Linked DNA regions of Homo sapiens: regions 2 and 3 are each reported to be linked to region 1. The links are microRNA targets in miRTarBase. Many come from high-throughput screens and were not tested one by one. Region 1 holds a microRNA gene; each other region holds the end of a gene's coding sequence.

Region 1 (5,075 bases):
ATGTTTGACCACTGCCATAACTCATTCAAATATTCAATAGAAACTCATCACAGAGTGAGGTCTTACACTCCATTCACTAATCCAATAAATAGTTAGTGCTCATTATGAGTAAGGCATTGGAGGGGATACAGTGAAAAATAAAACATGGACTTTGCCCTCAAGGGGCTTACAGTCTAGTGCGGAAAAAATCAGCAAGCACATAAATAGCCATAACATAAGGTAGAAAGTGATGTGTCATAAGGAAAACGCAAATAATGTGCTATGGGAGCTATTAACTCTAGCAGACATTTTTTATTATAGTGTCTAAGCAGCCAATATAAATAGACCAATGATCCATTTGAAAATTAAGGTCTGAATTTTGTTAATCTATAGATGATAAAAAGCTTTAATATTAATGCAATTTAAGTCACTACCTACAATTTTCTTAAAATGTTTGAACATGGAGTGACAACCCATTAGAAATACCATTTTGACATTGTTCATAAGCAGATACAAATGGAATAATCTAATAGGGCTGAAATGATCATTTTAATGTAATAAAGGCCCAAATCAATGATCCAAGATACTCATGACACATTACCTTCTTGCACACAAATTGGCTCAATCAGGTTAAAGTGATGAAGAATTCCTCGACGGCTCAAGTGTGCTCCAAGGAAAGCTAGAAGGTTGTACAGTTAACTCCCAGGGTGTAACTCTAAACCATACAACCTACTACCTCAACCCGGATGCACACAGCTTCCAATGTTGCTTCAAACTCCTTATCATATCTTCAGTCAGCTCCTCCAAATATGGCAGCCATACACCTAAGGGCTTGGCAAGGATATAGATATAATATTCTAACATTTTACCAGTAAACTTTGCTGCTAACTGTTTCTCATAGGACTAACCTAAACACTTGGGTTTCCAGCATAGGTCACGTAAAATGTCTTCTGACCATCTAACCTGCCATAGTTCTAGTCGCAATTAATAGTAAAAGTCAATTGCATTCAGCCTCATTTTTTCAGGAGAAATAGGCTCAATAAAAACATATAAATCCAATGGTAGTCTTTAATTTTCTTACTGAAGTTGAAGAGGTACACTAAGCACTACAGTATGCACTGAAGTTTCTGAACAGAATCTATTCAGATCCTGGTCCAAACCCTGCTATAAAGGTTCAACTTTCTTATGCAATTTACTGTACATGGAATCGAACTTGAATGGGTGTGATATAAACGCTTCCAAGTTGTTGAGAATTGAAGCCTGCCTTGTAAGACAGACAATGATTAAAATAAACATTAAAAACAAAGGAAAATATAATGACTTCAAAAGTATATAATCAACTGGAGTTTAACAGGATTTTACTGAACTATTGTTGAACGGCACTGTGTATAGCATTTTGTCAGATTACCACACTGACACAGACCCATAGAAGCGAGCTTGTGCGGTCCACTTCACCACAAGATCGGATCTACGGGTTTATGCCAATGGGCAACATCTTGCATGGGCCCCCTATTAATATAGAATTTGTTGTAAATATCTGATGCAATTAAGAGTCAAAAATAATATTGATCCTTTAGTATAAATGTTTTAAATGCTGAGTTCTAAGGATGCATATTCTCCATTAAAGGCCTTCATAAATATTCAAAACTAAATACAAATTTATATGCATGAGAATTTAAAAAGTAGTTTATTGAAAAATTTTTCACGAACTGCTTTTGTTTCAATAGTAAATATTTTGGAATTAAACTATTCTAATTGAGTTTTAAAAGAAAAAAGAATCCATACATGCATGTATGAATTATATAATTGTGAGGCATGAATGTAGTATTACGAGCCTATAATTAAAACCAAATTAACTATTAAGTTAATTGTGTATGAGTTAGACCGTGCTTATTTTAATTTTTATAAAACTAGTTTAGTTACTGGTTTCAAGGAATTGGTAACATTATAACTTTCTCATAAAACAGTAAGATCTTGTTCACTAGCTAGAGAATACAGGAAGTTATTATCAGCCTTAAATATATACATCTGTGTCTATAGTCGGAATGGTGCTAAAATTTACAATATTTGGATGAGTTAATATAAAACTAAACTAAATGGCACGATAATGGCATGATTACTAATACTCCACACTAACATTTATACTCCAGATGTATTACATGACATAGGATATCTTCTTTCCTAAATAAAATATATTTAAACTTATTGTTCAAAAAAGATACACTTAAAATGCATGGCTACATACAACTCTCATCTGGTCAACAGGTTGGGCAAAAATAAAATATTACTAAAAAATGTTTTAAACCACCAGACAACAAGCAAACACACAAACGAGTAAACATAAAGCCAGCCACATACACGTTTTTTTAAGATTGTAAACTCAACTGCAACAAAATGATAAGTTGTACAATCATTAATCATTTCACATCTATAATCACTTAGCATTTCCTAATTATATCTTTATTGTGTAAAATAATACTACATACTAATTGCTTAGTGATTTTGCATATTTTGAAATAAATACGTTTTATAGCCTTTATATAGATCATGTGTTCTACATAATTTTAAACCATTATTTATTCTTAAATTGTCCTCATAATTATTAAAAACTATAGTAAATAATCAACAATCATACATTCAGTTGTAGTAAAAATATTTCAACATATATTTATAAATGCAAATGTGAAATAAGAGGCAGCATTGGGTTTAGTTTTACCATAACTATAAGAAAGCATGTTTTGGTTTCATTGTCTTATCAGGTCATGTAAAAAAGATGAAAAAGCATGACCTTATTCCCCTCCTCCTGATTTCACTTCCTTTTATATGGTACAACAAATAAGAAAATATAATTTTTTTCTTTTCCTATAAAGCTTTCTAGTAAACCGTATTGCACCTATCTTAAGCGTATGGATACACAGACATATATTCAATGGGACACAAACTGCCCAATTGACCACAAGAAATTTTTCACAAAGGTAGGTCATAGCACACATTTTCAAATGAAAACCATCAATAAAATTTCAACAGTTACACTCATAAAGAATATGAAATTAATTCTTATAACAAAACACAGTCAAAAGAATGTTGTTTTTCTTTAAAAACAGTAAATCTTATTTGCTCTTTGTTTTTTATTTTTACCTGAAATGGTTTTCTCCTATGATCACTTTCTTCACTTTTCATATCCATTTTAAGTTTTTCCCTAAAACAACCACAAAAGGAGAAATATCAGACAACTGCTGTCTAGGAGGAGCATCTGAGTGGATCGTGGGAATGAGGGTAGACGATCGAGAAGAAAACACGATATCAAAATGGGCAAAACCTTTTAAAGTATTTTTTTTTTAAAGCCTTGGAAGACTCACAGGGCCCCACCCAGGCTACTCATATGACATATAAAGTGGTTTCATAGTTTGCATTTATGCGTTCATTTTGGTTCGTGTTGTTTTCACAGTAACAGTTTTGAAAGTGAAAGGACGATGGCTGTTAAAGAAGCGACTAGGTTTTGCACAATGAAGTAGCGAAAGCTGAAAAGAGATTTGGATTTGGCATGGAGCTTAATAAGATAATTAAGAGTGTAGAGATTAATGGCTGCTAAAAATAACATTTAAAATAATGTTTTTAAACGGATCTTGAAACATGGAAACAGGTTTATCAATATTAATTAAGCCAGTGAAAGTTGGTGTACCATTAGCTGAGGCAGCATGGAGGTACAAGAGCTATTTTGTAAATAATTAGTGAACAATAACCAACAGAACGTTTTATTTGAATGTTATCAGTATATAGGGATTTTGCAATTTCCTGTAATTGTTCATAGAATAGCAAACACAAAGGCAGAATTAATCAGTTCTACATTTTTCATTGTTTACCCTACATATTTGTAATATAAGAAAATATGATTTTAAAAGCATAACAGATTACCAAAGTATATTTTTACCGAAATATTATAACGTCAATTCTTAGTATGCAAATTATAGTTTTCATTGATACTTGCTGAATTTTTCAAAAGCATTCTCTTTTAAAAATTATTTTTACACTTGTTTAGAAACATTTTTTATCAAAACTAAAATAGCTGGAATGCATCTGCTAATCCTTTCACACTGAACCAGGCAAAACTGTTTTTTTAATAAAATGCTTAAATTGCTTAGCAATTTACTTCTACAAACAGACAAAATAATTATAATGCAATGCAGTTATCTGCTGAGCCAATACATTGCTCTGAACTTAAAACAAGTTTGCATGTACTTTTTCTAATACACTTGATATTTCCAATGCTTTTTGCAACTGCTCTAGGACAAGTACTTCTTTTAAAATGTATTTTAAAAGAGCATATTATTATGAAAGAAGCTTCTTTTCTACCTAGCAACTGAGAACATGCTCTTCTCATTCCTATTTTTGTTCTACTGAAATCTTTGTAAATAATTTGAATATAACTTCCCCAAAAGCAATCTTATTTATCAGTCATTCAACGCATATTCTAATATAACCCTTTTCTACAAGTTTAAAAAGTTTCTTCTTTCACATTTCAAATTATAAGTCACATGAAAGATTTACTTTTTTTACCCACTAGGTCTAAACATTCACTTTTCTTAGATAGCAAAAACTAATACTGGACACAAAAAGCACAGATATATTAATATCTTTCCAAAACTTCTGTGTATACCCCACATAAAAACATGTATTGTCTTTTTCATAGAGATTTTTCTATCTTTCCTTAAGTTTCTATTTTAATCAAGATTAGAGCAAGAGAGGAAAAGGAAAAAGTTAATAAGAGTAAAGTGGGCAATGAGTTAAATAAAAGTAAATTAAAAGTTCAAGGATTCCCTTTTATATAACAGTAGCCTTTAAAAGAAAAACAACAAAAAAAGTTATACCTGATATGAAAGGTGCGATTTCACCAAGTGCAATATATTGCTAATTATGCCATATGGTTTGAAATAATAAAAATAAAGAAGGCTCATTTGGTTATGTTGCCTTAAAAAGCTGATTTACAAAGCCCGATGTCTCTGTAGTTATACAGCCAATGTTTGCTTTTTTTGGTTTGTTTTGGTTTGGATTTTTGTTTGTTTGCTTTTGTTTTTGTTTTTGAGCAGGAGCGTCTC
Region 2 (5,075 bases), not on the chromosome of region 1:
TCAAATTCCTTTTCAGAGAACTTCTGTTCACAGTTGCTAATGGAGTGAGTTAAAACAGCCTGGAAAGGAAGGAACTACTACCTGTTTGAGGGGAAAGCTCCATACAGTACTACCATATATGAAACTCCAGAAAATTCAAGCTAATCTCTAGTGATTGCCAGGGGAGAGGGGGATTACAAAGAGCCACGAGGAAACTTTTATGGGTAATTATGTTTGTTCAACAGCTTGATTGTGGTCATGGTTTCACAGATGTGCACACATATCAAAGCATCAAATTGTATTATGTGCAGTTTACTGTAAGTGAATTATACCTCAATCTGCATTTTTTTTTCTTTTTTTCTGAGATGGCCTCCTTCTGTGGCCTAGGCTGGAGTGGCCCAGTCTCTGCTCACTGCAACCTCCACCCCCAGGGCAGAAGCAATCCTCCCACCTCAGCCTCCTGAGTAGCTGGGACTACAGGCATGCATCACAATGACCAGCTAAATTTTTGTGTGTGTGTTTTTTGAGACAGGATTTGGCCATGTTGCCTAGGCTGGTCTCGAACTCCTGGACTCAAGTGATCCACCTGCCTTGGCCTTCCAAAGTGCTGGGATTACAGGCATGAGCTACCATGCCCGGCCCTCATTTTAAAAATGGCTTTATTACTGATAAGAGCTAGATTAGAGGATGCAGTGTAAGTATACTCTCTCCAGAATCTAATCACCCTACCATGCTGTGGGCCTTCTGGCACGAGGGACAGACTGCCTGTTAATTGCAGAGAACCACCCACACAGAGGAAGGCGAGCTGACTGAGCATGCTCAGTTCTTCCGGAACACTTGTCTTCCCACAGGGAAGGAGCAGGGGATGTTAGTCCAGCCTTCTGCAAATTTTTTTCTTTCTGTAAAAGGCCAGATAGTAAATAGTTTAGGCTTTGCAGACAGTCCCTGTCAAAACTCCTCAACTTTGTTGTAACATAAGAACAGCCATAGATAATACATAAATCAGTGAATGTGGATATGTTCCAATAAAACTTTATTTATGAACACAAATCTGAATGTCATATAGTTCACATGTTTCAAATTTTTTTATTTATTTTTAACCATTTGAAAACATAAGACCCACTTTTCGGCTCATGGGGCGTGCACACACAGGCTGTAGGCCACAGTTTGCTGACCTATACTCAAGGGAAATCCCTCTACCCTGAAGCATAAAGAAAACAAATTTCCCCCTAAAAATAAGCATTACAGAAAATACAGACACCTTTATTTAGATTAGTGCATATATTTAATAGTGTGATATTAGAAATACCTTGTCAACACATAGGGAAAAATAATATATTTTAAGCAATAAAACCAAGATTAAAATAGTCCATGATAGCTTTGTCACACAAAAAACAATGGTAGTCACTCTCCTCCCCGCGCACAAAAGGTGGCATCACTGGCTTGTTGAGTGGTACATTTTCTTACCTTGCTGCATGTTTTTCAGATAGTTCCTTAGTCATACACATGCTTAGCCTTGTAATGCCATGGGTATGAATCCTCCTTCATTGAATGTAAACCAGCAACTAAAGTGCTTGTTAGCCTGTGAGCCCTACAAACACCCACTCCCATATTCTAGGGCCTGTTTTTCTCTGTCCAGAGCTCTTAGCGTGCTTTATCTCCCAAAGATCCTCAATGATAAGCAGTCCACCATGAAGAATGCTGGTTGGTCATTCCATCTCGTGCTTTGTTCTGATGAGAAATGGGGTGACAAGACAGGACTCACTTTCTGATCACTACTGTGATGTTTGATTTCCCAGAGATTCAAGATCCTTCTGTGATGGAAGGATCAGAGAGGCCAGGCTGAGATGGCCAAGGACAGAAAAGGAGGAGGGGCAGAAGAAGTCCACTGTAAACCTAGAGGGAGGGGTGGCCCGGGTGTGATCCACAGGAGACTATGCAGGCCATCTCTCCCTCTGACCTTGGCTCTCTGGATCCATTAAAAGAAATTCCTCTTAGTCCTGGGAATAGAACTTTCAGGTGGCCCAAAAGTTCCACCAGAATTTGCCCTCCATCCATCAAGGCAGGAGTTCTTTGTTTAGTGGAAAGCAGAACTCTACAGTTTAAAAAATTTGCATTCAGTTCTTGGAGCCACTACTTCTTGGCCATGACCTCTGGGAAGTTATTTAACCTCTCTGGGCCTTCAGAGGGCTATCTGCAACATAAGAATGATAGTATCTCCTCTTCAAGGTTGATTATAAGGATCAAATGAGTATGTAAACTGCATATGTTATGTACATAAAGCGGTAAATGTTCACTCCCTTCTTCCTCATTACGCCCGATGACTTTACATTTGGGCTGCTGTCCCCTATGCCAGAAATTCACATTTGCATGCAAACAACCATAACCCTGGTCACCTGATAAGGCAGATTCTAGGCTTATGAAGCTCAATACTGGTTAAAAAAAAAAATCACATTTTCCTTCTAACACTATAGACAGTATTGAATTGGCTAGTTATACAGAAAGTGTAGGCATAAGCAAAGCAATTATTTTAAAAATAAAATGACACACTTTTTAGTTCTGCCTTTCCCCAGTAAATTACAATAAGTAAAAATAAGATGGTCCCATGAGGATGAATACTGCGGGAGATGACAAAAGCACCTAAAAGCTGAATTTTTTTTAAGAACCCATGGGGAAACATTTTCTCTGGCACTCCTGCCCTGGTGTTTAAATACCTTGCTTCTTCATCAGCAATGCATTCCTAGTTTTCCCATGTGTTAAAAAAGCATTGTGCAACAGGATATTGTTTAGGTGTGCTCACACTTGGTACCACAACACTGGTTCTATCTCTCATTCTAATCTTCCCACAAAAAATGCCAAGGGCACCACCAAGGCCACCAGCCTCAGGACCAAGGGTGGATGGGGAACTACCCTGAACCAGTCAACGTAGCAGGCTACAATTAACTCCAGTTAATTGCTCGGGAGTACTGCTTTGTGGGTGGGAATGTTTTAATTGTCTTTCATGTTTGAAATAAGATTTATTCGGTAGAAAAACTTAAATGTATTTTTAAACATATGAAGTGAATACATCTATGTCAAGTTATTTTGGAAAGTACCTGTCGGGGACCAGAGTATCATAACCACGCCATCCAAGTTAAGACTGACTGTATTTCAGAGTTTTGGAATATATACACAATTGCTGAGTCGTTATCCCTATCTATGGCAGTCCAAACGCACAGCCTACAGAACATAATAAATGCTTAATGAATTAATCACTTCTATTGCATTTAATGTAAACTGGGGATCCGTTTACATTAGAGAACTATACTGCTAAACAACACCGAGAGGAGTCAGTGTAGTTTTTCTTAGAGAAAGAAAAGATAATGTTACAATGCTACCTTCAACCTGCACGGCATTAAGCTCCTCCTCCCCTTTCTATTGCCTCAGTCCTTAGAATACGATTCTTCCTTAGCTCTTGAATGGCCAACAGCTGCTTTCTTGAGAGAGATGAAAACTGCCATTGACATAGCACAGAATTAAAAACCAGGAGGGCTTGGCACTGTGCGAGTGTTGCCGTCAGCACAGAAAGCTTGCTACATGCAAGACTCCGTACCTCCACAGATGGCCCGTGCCTCTTAGACAAGCTATTTTAACATACACAGCCATCTGACTGCAGGTCCTACAAGAGAAACCGTGTTTAGAATGCTGTTCCTTAGAGGCAATCACAGCAGCTAAGACAGAAATCATCCCTTTTTAAAACCTTGTTTCATTCACCTTCTCTAAGGTTCTACAGATAGAAATCGTTGTTCATCTTTAATATGAGATTGTGCCAGCTACAAAAACTCAAAACTCTTTTAAGTATATACCTTAGAGTTTTACCCAGCCTTTATTTCTATTAACAAGCATCTCAGTTAAAAGAGCAAAGTTTTTGTTTTGTGCCTTCAAAAACCGGTCTTTTAGTACGTGGGGATACACATCTAACCCACTGGGGAAGAAGGTCAATGAACTATTCTAAAAGAGTGGGTTTTGTGCTGTAACTCCCACTGACTGGTCTTGGATTCAAGGGGTCCTTCCACTTTACAATGAACTGCGCCATTATCTGTCCTTTGAGCAATAACTGAAGGAAGCTCCATTTCTGATGGAACCATTCATGGAAACCTTTGGATTCCCTCTCTCCATCTTTTCTCGGCTGAAGATTGTGTCCTGGTCACTGTCAAACTCAGACTCGGATACCATCAGGCTGGAGTTGTGCTCTGTGCTTCGGTGCTTGATACCTAGAGAGAAGCACAGAAGCATCTGAGGAGGAACGCCGTGATTCACTTCCAGCTGTCAGTCGTTGTGGTTGCAGGTCCTGTGATGGGCACGGAGTGGTGCTCTCCGCCCCTTGAAAGCAATCACTCAAAACAGCAGGCGGTTTGGGTTTCCTAGCAAGTAACTGCAGGGGCTTTGATGCCTCACCCGAGCTTCTGTCCCAGCTTTGACACTCGCCAGATGCTTGAGCCTGGGCAAGATACCGAACCTCTCTGAGCTTTCAGTCTCCTCCTCTATTCAACTGGAAGATAACAAAGCATCTACCCCATGAGTTTATGCTGAGGATTAAGTGAAATAGTGCATGTAAAGCTCTCTTGGCCCAGCCTTTAGTACATTGTAAGCATCCAACAAACGAAAGCTTCTGTGATTTTACCATTTGGTTAAAATATTTTTGGTAGAATATTTGATTTCAGGGGGTCAACCTAAGATACAGAACAGGTATAAGATTCAATTCCTACTCTCAAAGGATTTATGGTGTCTAGCTAGGGGTTTAAGACATAGACTTGGCTGGGCATGGTGGCTCACGCCTATAATCCCAGCCCTTTGGGAGGCTGAGGTGGGAGGATCACTTGAGGCCAGGAGTTCGAGGGTACAGTGAACTATGATCGTGTTGCTATGCTCTAGCCCAGGTGACAGAGCAAGACCCTGTCTCGGGAAAAAAAACAAAAACAAGACATAAAAGGCATAGACTCATGAGAAGATGGCTCATAACAGGTTAGATGTTTTTTAAATTGTATATGAATTAGGAGATAAGCACATATACTTATGGCAGGGGTTGCTTCAGTAATGTTTCCCATAGGGTGATG
Region 3 (5,075 bases), not on the chromosome of region 1:
ATTTACTCTTCTTGTAACTTCTTTGGTTTCACATGAAGGTAATGCTGACCTCATAAAATGAGTTGGGAAGTGTTCCTTGCTTCTATTTTCTAGAAAAGCTGTAGGTAGTACTAATATGTTTATTCCTTAAATGTTTAGCAATGAAACCATTTGCGCCAGGTCCCATCTTGATCACACACAGCTGTGTCCATTTATTTATGTATGGTCTTTGGTTACTTTGTGCTACAATGGCAAAGTTAAGTAATGTGACAGACTGTATAATCCAGAAAGCCTAAACTGTTTACTCTCAGGCCCTTTACAGAAAATGGTTTCTAACCCCTGACCTAGAGTAGTGATTCTCAACTCTAGCCACATATTGGAATCACCTGGAGAATGTTTGAAAAAAAATACTGTCTGGCTCTCATACCTAGAAATTCTAATTTAATGTGTTTGAGCTGAGGCTAGGCCATTGGAAGTTTCAAAAGCTCCCCAAGTGATTTGACTTGGCAGGTTGAGAACTACTGGATGAGAATAAGAGTTGGTGTTATGTATTCATTTTACTTCCCACCCCAAAGCTGATTATTCTAATGTGCATTTAGGGTTGAAAATCAGTCATCTAGGGCAGTAGTTTCCAGGTCTGGATGTGTATCAGTCACCTGGGGAGGTTTTAGAAATACATTCCAAGACCTCACTGCAGAGCTACTGAAGCAGAATCTCTAGTACATGAGGCCAAGGATTTTTATTTTTACTAATTAATTATTTTATTTTTATTTTTAAATTCTTCAGATGGTTCTCATATGCAGGGATTTCTTTAAAAGAATACTGAACCCAGGCCATGCTATTCTATTGTCAAGATTCTTGGGCATTGAATGAGTAATTAGAAGATTATGAGAGGTGAAGCCAGCTGGACTTTCTGGGTCGGGTGGGGACTTGGAGAACTTTTCGGTCTTACAAGAGTATTGTAAAATGCACCAATCGGTGCTCTGTGAAAACGCACCATCTGTGCTCTGCAGCTAGCTAGAGGTTTGTAAAATGGACCAATCAGCACTCTGTAAAATGGACCAATCAGCAGGACATGGGCAGGGACAAATAAGGGAATAAAAGCTGGCCACCCCCAAGCCAGCAGCCACAACCCCCTCAGGTCACTCTCCACGCTGTGGGAGCTTTATTCTTTCGCTCTTCACAATAAATCTTGCTGCTGCTCACTCCTTGGGTCCATGCCATCTTTAAGAGCTGTAACACAGTGAAGGTCCGTGGCCTCATTCTTGAAGGCAGTGAGACCACCAACCCACCAGAAGGAACCAACTCTGGACACAATTATCTAGTGAGTATGGAAGTGGAGAAAAGGGATTTAGATGTATGAGGCCGTGCAATGCAGGCTGTGGACAATCCCATTGACTAGTCCTCTGTAATGATGAGAATCTTCATTTCTAGTAGATATGGTAATCTAACCCCCTTTGTACACTGCTGGATAACATGGAACATGTTTTTTCCTCTCTGGTTTCTCTTTATCTGGGCTCCATAAAGACCAGTCCTTCCATTAACATTCTTTCTTCAGATAATCGGGTTACATGATGGGAAATTAGATTTTTTTTTTTTTCATTTCTGTTTTGAGTCTATAGTTCCCCATCCCATCAGCTTGCATGGTTCTCTAGTCTCTTCAGCACCACATTTACTAATTGTCTCTTAGGCTAGACACTTTGGAGATGGCTAAGTTCATTTGTGCTACATTTTTGCCCTTGGCCACCTCAATCTAATCTCCTGATATACTTGCTACATCTCAAATAGAGTTTTTGCTCAAGTAATCATCTGTTAACCCTTCAACTGTATTACACAGTACCTCTTCAGTTCAGATGAGATGTGTAAAATCATGGAATGTTGAGCTGGAAGAGAGTTTATAGACCATCTTGTCTAAGCTCAAAAAAGATAATAATTATAGGCAGTTAGTTGGGTACAGTTTTTTGTTAATTTGTTTTTGATGAGTACATCATGCTACCCCTGTACAATTCTTGCTTTGGGGTTTATAATCTATTACTGCAAACCCTAGCTATGAAGTAGCTGGACTTCATTCAGTAGGGTGAAGTCCATTCATGTGTCATACTGATAGGCACTGAATAACCACGGTCCAGCCAAATCTCTGTGAGACTTATCTTCCTCTTCTGTAAAATGAGGAGAATGAATATCTACTTTATAAACTGTAAGATGCTTTTTGTTTTGGTTTGGGAAGAACCTTGGACAGGAAGGAAAACAAAAATGTATCAGTCAATCTGAGAATTAGTTATTACACGGGCTCCAAGCCCAGAAGATACTAGCTAAACCTAAAAGGAATGATCTTGGAAATAAGGATTTCTAGTATATTAAATTATGAGTGCTATTCACTAGTCAAGCAATCATTGATTTTCTTAAAGCCCTAAGCAATACTATAAAACAGAAGATTGTATCTACTTTCAAGAGATTACAATGAAGTTACTCATTTAGTTGCACGTTAGGGCATTTGTGTTATTATTTATGGTAACTTCGAAAATGGGAGGTATTAAAGGACCTATGAAAATACTGTAAATCAGTTTTAAAAGTGTATAAACTGGCATATTTTTCAATTTGTTTGCAAGGCTGGCTTAATGATTGGCATGATAACAGTGGTTACTCTCATAAGGCATTAAATATATAGCTCTAAATGATTTTTACAAGTAAAAATAAAATTTTGTAGTCATTTAGTTTAGTTCAACAAATATTTATTGAGGATATAATGAGTAATCAAAGGTTGTCCCAGTACTCAAGGCGATGATTGTCAGGTAGCAGAAACAATTACAAGTCGATGGAAAATGCTGGGATCGAAGTGCACACAAAGAGCTATGGAAGCCCTGTAGGGACTGGGGAGTGAGGAGGGATGTCAAGAAGGCTGCTATCCAGAAGAAGCAATGTTTCGACTGAGGCTTGAAAGTTTCAATGTAATGTGGGAGGAAGAGCAAATGGAACAGTGTGTGAAAAGACATGGAGGCATGAGAACACATGGTGTTTTTAGAGACCAAGGTGGACCTCAGGATGAGCGTAAGGCAGTAAGAAATGAGATGGGAAGGAGTCAAATCATGACTGGCTTGCTTGTTTGATCATTTTCCTATGAGTGACCGTGTTGACGGATTCAAATTTAAGGAGTACAAGATCGTATTTTAAAAATGCCCTTAGCAGTATTTATAATTGAACAAGGATAGACAACAGCTGGGTAAGAAAGACTAGAGGCAGAATTCTCAGCCAGGGATCATGGAATGTGAATATCCTTTTGCTGACACAAGGAACAAATGTTGGCTCCAAACATTAGTTACTTTATACCAGTATTAGCTGTTCATTCAGTTTTTTAACTTCTTTAGAGCAATTTTATTTATCATCTATTTTTTCCCAATTACCCATTACATATAGAAATATTATCATGCCTGTCACCGATGAAACATATTAAGAAAAGTGAAAAATACATATTCTTTAAAGTGCCTCCCTTTTAAGGATTTTGTATCAACAAAGCACTGATTGTGGAATTCATGTATAGTCTTCAGAAGTCACAGTATATAAGCTCCGACTATCAATAGCAGCTTAACAGGCTCTATAAAATAAAGCATTACCAAGTATAGGTAAAATCATACATATTTGAAACTTATATCATTATTTTCCTACCAATGAGTGATTCATCATAATTTTCATTATGCCTTCAAAATTATCCCTGAGAGAGGCCAGAAACCCATTCTGCTGATGAAGAAACTGAGGTAAAGATTTCTCTTTGGTCTCAGTGTAAGAGCCTGGAATATGTCAGAGAGATTATTGCTTTTGACCTTATCAAGTTTCTTGATCCCTCCTTACACCCTTAAGTTTTAATGTTTCTCTTCTAAGTCTAAAAGTGAGGCGTATTTGAAATTTGTTCTGTGTATTGCAAGTATATTGCATGATACGCACAAAGTGCTCAAAGTGCGTGGTACCACAAGAAGCTAAAGCCAGGAGCTGTCTCTCTGACTGTTCAGTTTAGAAGAAAAGATAGGTAAAATTGGTTCTCAGTGAAGCACTGATTGTGGAATTCATTTATAGTCTTCAGAAGTCATGGTATATGATATGTGCATTCATAGATTTTTTTTGTTTGTTTAAATCACAGTCACCTGTCTGAAGCATCTTCACTGGATTCTTCTTGTATAAGAAGTTCATAGCTTCCCTCATTCCAGCTGGTACACTTGACAACACTATAAAAGGAAACAAGACATTTTAAAGTTGAGATTAAGACAATACATAAATAAGTAATCTGTTTTCCAACTTTTTTTCCCAGTTACATAGCTTTTAATAAATTATGCAGATTATTAGGAGGAGTATCCTGGCATTTTGAATCCAGCTGACTCATGCATGGTGTTCTTAAAATAATTTTAAAACTGCATGATTTTTTTTCTCTTCTAGACCCCTAAGGTATCCCATCTGTCCCATGGTTAACTCTGTGTAGTCCACATAAACTAGTTATAACTAAAGCTATTACTGAAGTTCCTGTTCAATAGCTATAGCTGAAGCTCAGAAGCTTGGACATTTGGAGGTAAGACAGTATGTAATTTTGATTTTTAAAATATTGAGCAGTGTAAGGTTAAAAAAAAAGCTCAGAAGCCCATCTACTTTACCTTATTATTAAAAGGACAACTGCCTTTTATCTATCTGTTATAACAGAATTTATAAACATGTGAAGACTAAAATTAGAATTACCTATTATTCTACTCACCATGTATGCAATTCTTTTCTTTAAGTGTTATTTTCCTACTGTTTAAAAAAATCTGTTTTTTTTTGGTAAAGATGGGGGTCCCACTATGTTGCCCAGATTGGTCTTGAACTCCTGGCCTCAAGCAGTCCTCCTGCCTCAACCTCCCAAAGTGCTGGGATTATAGGTGTGAGCCACGGTGCCTGCTACAATTCTTGTTAGTTAAGTCATTTTTCATGAAATGGCTGTACCATCATTTACTTAAACATTCTCCCACTGTTGGACAGTTTGGTCACTTAAAATTTTTTTGCTGTAATTAACGTTTTTATATATCAATTTTTGACAAAATTACTCATTATTTGTTTAGAGTATGTTTCTAAAAGGA

Evidence for each region. The annotated mature microRNA hsa-miR-99a-3p reads CAAGCUCGCUUCUAUGGGUCUG and lies in region 1 at 1,398-1,419, opposite strand. An mRNA with a match to its seed (bases 2 to 7 or 8) in the 3' UTR can be bound and repressed. Matches are read on the target gene's strand: a 7mer-m8 pairs with bases 2 to 8, a 7mer-A1 pairs with bases 2 to 7 and ends in A, and an 8mer does both.
Region 2: miRTarBase lists KIAA0319 as a target of hsa-miR-99a-3p. Seed matches in the 3' UTR shown: 7mer-A1 at 3,375-3,381.
Region 3: miRTarBase lists SLC46A3 as a target of hsa-miR-99a-3p. Seed matches in the 3' UTR shown: 7mer-A1 at 3,538-3,544.

The regions. Positions count from the first base shown.
Region 1 is chr21:16,535,482-16,540,556 of GRCh38, reverse strand. MIR99A (microRNA 99a) reads right to left here and starts at 1,468; the gene lies at 1,388-1,468. All of the region lies in intron 6 of MIR99AHG (mir-99a-let-7c cluster host gene), which reads right to left. MIRLET7C (microRNA let-7c) reads right to left here and starts at 729; the gene lies at 646-729.
Region 2 is chr6:24,543,112-24,548,186 of GRCh38, forward strand. KIAA0319 reads right to left here. Exons shown (of 21, transcript NM_014809.4): 21 at 996-4,232. The coding sequence ends at 4,054. Among named protein-coding and RNA genes, the nearest start is that of ALDH5A1, 51 kb to the left of the region's middle. RefSeq lists an enhancer at 4,120-4,642.
Region 3 is chr13:28,697,386-28,702,460 of GRCh38, forward strand. SLC46A3 (solute carrier family 46 member 3) reads right to left here. Exons shown (of 6, transcript NM_181785.4): 6 at 2,695-4,196. The coding sequence ends at 4,112. The region is part of intron 1 of LOC124903143 (a long non-coding RNA gene); the gene reads left to right. Among named protein-coding and RNA genes, the nearest start is that of SLC46A3, 19 kb to the right of the region's middle.